2 separate regions of the Homo sapiens genome follow, and region 1 is linked to region 2. The links come from fine-mapping of genetic effects on gene expression. A gene starts in region 2. The other region holds a variant in brackets. All regions are shown on one strand. Distances are from middle to middle.

Region 1 (2,912 bases), 120 kb after region 2:
AATCGCTAATCAAGAACAATCCCTCATACAGATCTTTAAATTAAAAAGCCTGAATTAAATAAAACACCAGGTAAAGACTTTCTGCTACCAAAATTGTTCAAAGCCTGACTTAATTGATGAGAGCTGATCCTTATTCACTTTTTGCCTTAACTGTAGAGAGAAAAATAAAAATTTCCATGCGTGTGCATGCAAATGTCTAACATTATTATGTATTAGTTTTTTGAATGTAAAAAAATAAGAAAAACAGAAATGACACATAATCTCACTCTCCAGAAAACTCCTTTTTTTGTTGTTGTTTTTTGTTTTGAGACAGAGTCTCATTCTGTTGCCCAGGCTGAAGTGCAGTGGCATGGTATCGGCTCACTGCAACCTCCACCTCCTGAGTTCAAGTGATTCTCGTGCCTCAGCCTCCTGAGTAGGTGGGACTATAGGCGCCTGCCACCACGCCTGGATAATTTTTGTATTTTTTGGTAGAGACGGGGTTTCACCATGTTGACCAGGCTGGTCTCAAACTCCTGACCGCAAGTGATCCCCACATCTCGGCCTCTCAAAGGCTGGGATTACAGGTGTGAGCCACAATGCCCAGCCTCCTGTATTTGTTTTTATTAGAGTAATACATGTACCTGGCAAAAAAAAATAAACTATGCAGGAAGATATAAAATGAAAAACAAAAGCTCTTTCCTACCACCACCCAGTTCCTCTCCCAGATCATCACATTACTTTTCTTCTGCATCTGTCCAGAAGAATAAGGTGTATATATACATTAAAATGCATATCATGAAATATATAGTCTTTTAAAAGAATTTTACTATATCCACTTAAACTTTGCTTTTTCATATATAATTATTCGTATTACTCTAGAATGTATTTCCTACAGACATTTCCCTACATAACCATGACACAGTGATCAAAATCAGAAAATTAATAACAATACACTACTCCCATCTAATTCTCACATTACTCAAGTTTTGTCAGTTGCCCCGATAGTGGCTTTTACAGCAAAAGGATACAATTCAGAATCACAAGTTGCATTTAGTTGTCATGTCTTTTTATTCTGCTTCAGTCTGGAGCATTTTCTCAATCTTCTCTTGAATGATCTTTATACTCAGGCTGGAGTACAGTGGTGTGATCTTGGCTCACTGTAATCTCTGTCTCCTGGGCTCAAACCATCCTCCCACGTAGCTGGGACCACAGGCACGCACCACCACACCCAGCTAATTTTTTTTTTTGTATTTTTTTGTTAGAGACGGGGTGTCGCCATTTGCCCAGGCTGGTCTCGGACTCCTGGCCTCAAGAGATCCTCCTGTCTCAGCCTCCCAAAGCACTAGGATTACTGGCATGGGCCACCATGCCTGGCCGATGCTGGTTTCTTCTCCTCGCCTCCCCTCAGGTGGTATGCCATTTCTGTTTGTCTCATTACTGATGAAGCTCACTCTGGTCACTTGATTAAGGTGGTGTTTGCCAAGCTTCCCATCTGTAAAGTTATTATTTTTTTCTCTTTGTAATTAATAAGTACTTTGTGGAGAGGAATTTGAAACTAAGTATGCCATTGTGCAGTAAACTTTTAATTAATTAATTAATTAATGTCTTTTGGACTCATGGTTTCTATTTTATTCAGTGGGTTGTTCCCGCCATCACTTATTTTGATACTCAAATATCAAATCAAATTTTGATACTCTCGCCTTCCCTTGAAAACTTAACAGCCATTGCTTTGTCCAATAGAAGCTAGCTTATATGTCATTTGACATGCTCCTATTGT[A/T]TTTTAGGACCTTCCTTATTGTTGCTGTGGCACAGAAAGATGATTCAAATTCATCTTTTACTTTCCCTGCTGGTACTGAAATCAGCCATTTCTCCAAGGGACCCTGGTTCCTTTGAGTGGAAAATGGCATTCAGAAGCCAAGATCTTAGTGGTAGATGTGTCTGTTGATATTGGGACATTGCTGCCTCAAGCCCTCCTAGTGGACAAAGCTACATACATCCATACAGGTCTATGTCCGTTTCTATATCTATTTATATGTGTATTAAACTGTAGTTCACACCAATAACTTCAATTCCAATCTAACACCACGAAATTTATTCTAGGTGTCTCTCTTTTTGTATTTGTAACTCTTTTTTCCAACAGTGTGAAGTCTGGCGTCCATTAGTCTTAACATACTACTTAATTAATCCTTTGTATGTAATCAACATCGATATTGATATTGATTGATCAGTATCAATCAATATCCAATCTCTGCTGCCATGTCCTCTCTAGCACTAATGTCTGTCTTCTTCTACTTGGGCTCTGATACTTCATGCTGGGCTGCACCATCATGGCCTTTCTTTTTGCCCTGTTGGGCTCTGACTCCACTTGGTGGGCCATAACCCCTAACACTGCCATGGATGCCCTCCTAATCCCATTCAGGCTTTGACTCCACATACCAGGCTATCCTCCACCTAGAACCCTCCTCATCCTGCTTTGGCTCTGATGCTCCAGGTTAGACTACCTCATTCCCTATGCCTTCCTCTTCCTGCTCAGCCCTGACTCCCCACACCAGGCTTCCCATCTTTATGGATACCCTCCTCCCCCAGCTTGGGATCAGGCATCTCGTGCTAAGCAGCCCTTCTCCATGGACCCCGCTTCACGCTGCTCAGGACCACCATAGTGCCACTCCACCACCAATGGCGGCTGGGCCCAAGAAAGAACATGCAGATATTCTATTCTTTAAGTTCTTTTATATTTGAAAATGTCTGTCTTTTATCTTTATATTTGAACATCTTGGGTTGTTAAAATATTTTTGGTTTTCACTTTCTTTCTCTTAGAACCTTGTAGATTGTGCTCTATTGTCTCCCAGCATTACGTTTCTGTGAAGAAGCCTGAGCCCAACATAAATTATGTTGCAAGTTGGGTGCGATGGCTCACACCTGTAATCCCA
Region 2 (2,912 bases):
GGTGCTGAGGAGGAGATCGACTCATTTACAGAACCACCAGCCCAAGTAGCACCGCTCAGGTGAAACTCTTTCACTTGGGCCTGTCTGGGAAAAGGCTTACTCGTTCACAGCCTCGCCTCAGCCCTCTGACCTGGTTGTCACCCTGGACTCCTCCACCCCTACCCCAAAAGGGAGGCCGAGGGAGTCTGCCGTTCCGAAGAAAACAGGAGAGTTGGAGGAGGGCGAAAAGGCAGCATCTGAGGGGGACGGCCTAGGTAGGAAAAATGAGAAGCAGGGGTGCAGCGGGAGGGTGAAATGGGGCGCAGGACACAGACCAGGCGCGGACCAACCTGCTCCCTAACCTGGAGCGTGGTGATTTCCAAGGGGTCCATGGAGAAATGTGGGGCGGGGTGGCGTGGGGGTGGGGGAAGGGAGGGCCGGGGCAGTTTGCAATGGGAAAGCTCTGTTCCGGGCTTCCTAAAACAACCGCCGGAGTTGCTGAGCGATGGGGCAGAAGGTGGCGGGAGCGGGTCCCGAGGCTGCACGCGCGCCATGTCGCACGCCACCGAGGAGGCGCAAGCTGCAGTGGGCAAGCCCGCACACGCCCACCCGTTGCGGCAGCGTCCGCTGCGGACTTTAAAGCGGTCCCTTGGCGGTCCTGGGAGAGGGAGCCGCTAACCTTCCCGTGTTCCCCCAAGCAAAGCAAAACAGTCTTCCAGCAACCGAAAAGCTCCACCTCTACTCCCCCCGAACTATGCTCCTAATTGGCAGCTCAGCGCATGGGATGATGCGGGTGGCTGCAGGCCGGCCCTGCAGTGCCAGCCGCAGCAGCCCAGCCCCACTGGAGAGGGAGTTGGGGGCACGGCGTGGTCCCGGGGCTCCGGGACCGCGAGGCGGGGTGCGGCAGGCAGGGTGCGCAGCGGGCGGGGGCTCCCCGGCCTACGCGGCGGCCACCGCCCCTCCTGCGGCTGGAGCGCTTCCAGAGCAGAGGCGCAGCCTCGCTCGCCGCTGCGCTCGCTCCGTCTTCCTCCCGCTCCTGCTCCGGCTCCTCCTACTCCTTCCCTCCCGCCGTTGCTCCAGCAGCCGGCTCCCAGCAGCGGGCGAGCGCGCCTCCCCCTCCGCTCCCTCCCTCCCCCTCCTCTCGCTCTCTGCCCGCTAACTTTCCCGAGCCCCGACCGGCGGCGCAGAGCTCCGGGGTAGCTTTGTGGCCGAACGCCGACCTCGGGCGGAGAGCGCGGCTGTGCCCAGTATCCCATCCCCGCGACCCCCGCGCGCTCCGGAGAGAACAGGACTATGCCCGGGGCTGGGGACGGAGGCAAAGCCCCGGCGAGATGGCTGGGCACTGGGCTTTTGGGTAAGGCAGCCCCAGCTTGGTCTCTTCTCTTGCCTCCCCCCACCCCCAAAGAAGGGGACACTCGAGAAGGAAGATGCCTTGGATGGGGTGGGCTTTGGAGTGCGGCACGGAATGAGGATGGTGGCCGCCGGCTTCCTGCCTGGTTCCTGCCTGGTTCATAGGCTGTGCTCCCTGGGGACCGTGTGCGTCCCTCTCTACCCCATCAGCCCGCCAGTCTCAGGATTAGTTTTTTTGCTGTCCTTGGCACCTTCGGCTCCAGGTATTTGGAGCTGGATCTTGGGGCTGCAGCGCGGGTCTCCAGAGTTCAGAGGTTCAGGATGCTGGAGGAGGGGGGTCCGTGCCTTGAGTGCAGGGGATACCAGGTGGGTTGCACGTGTGACTGTTGGAATGGTGGTTTCCATCCCGGCCCAGAGCCGTTTGCTTGTTTCCCAGGCACCAGGCATGCACCAGTTGGGGGTGGGGGAGTCCCCTTCTTCCTGGGCCCTTTTCCTGCTTTGCTCCTCTGCCCTGTACCTCCCTCAGGAGCCACTGCCTTCCCTACAGCAGCACCTGAAAGCTGGAAGGGGCTGGAGGGGCTTGCGGGATCATTCAAGGCCCTTTAGGAACGGCCTTGTCTCTCTTCCTACAAAGAGATTCCGTAGGGAAGACCTGTTTGACCTGCTCCTGGCTCTTCATTTTTGAAGTGAATATGGAGACAGAGAAGACATGTCCAGAGGACACGGAGGAAGAAGCATTATTAATATCTATTAATATGCACATGAGAGTTTTGAGTGTCAAACTCCAAGAGATTAGGGAATGATATTTATTCATCCAGGATGTAATCTCCTCATAAATCATAGCCAGACTTTAATGTAAGCCGACTCCATCTCTGGCAACGGCATCTCTTCCTGTTTATATTGGTCAGATTTGGCTTTTGGCAGCTCCCTGCATTGGGTAAGACACACGGTGTAGGTATTTCTGCTGAAAACAGGGAGACAGAACCCTATAAGGGAAGTGGCTACTGTTTCTGCGAATGTAAACTGTGTGCAGATCTAGCAGGTTGGTGCCTGGTGGTGAAGAGGGGAGAGAGTATTTCTTGTACTTGGGATGTTTATTTACCTCTGTACCGCTAGATGGAAGACACCCTTGTTTTCTCCTGTACCTTGGCACAGATGTCATGCTGGTTTCACAGTGACCTTAATGAAGTGGGCCTTAGTGACGCCTGAGGCTCCTTTTCACAGGGTGGGCACAGCGCCATTCCATGCTACTTCCCCTCATCCCATCTCAGATCAGCCCAGGTCCCCATGGTGGCAATGGCAGGGGTAAAGGATCACTGAGGAATTCAAACTCAGCCAGTCATTAAACTACCCCACTTCACACCTCTGGCTTACCTTCCTGGGTGGTGGGATGCCAGTCCCTTGTTTGTTAGAATACTCATAGAACCAGGCCTCTGTGGGCAACCAAGAGGGCCCTGAAAATGATGTGTGTGTGTGTGTGTGTGTGTGTGTGTGCACGTGTGTAAGGGGGATTGTAGGCACAGTCTTGGTACATTGCTCCAGGTGGAAGCCCCACCTTCTCCAAGGACTGTTCAGCTGTATAG

Evidence for each region.
Region 1: its variant is fine-mapped to the expression of SCN4B in whole blood (TOPMed, PIP above 0.99).

The regions. Positions count from the first base shown.
Region 1 is chr11:118,030,302-118,033,213 of GRCh38, reverse strand. The region is part of intron 1 of SMIM35 (small integral membrane protein 35); the gene reads left to right. Among named protein-coding and RNA genes, the nearest start is that of TMPRSS4, 45 kb to the left of the region's middle. The variant A/T (reference allele first, on the strand shown) is at 1,760.
Region 2 is chr11:118,151,034-118,153,945 of GRCh38, reverse strand. It overlaps SCN4B (sodium voltage-gated channel beta subunit 4), which reads left to right and starts at 1,123. Exons shown (of 5, transcript NM_174934.4): 1 at 1,123-1,333. The coding sequence starts at 1,273. RefSeq lists an enhancer at 5-505.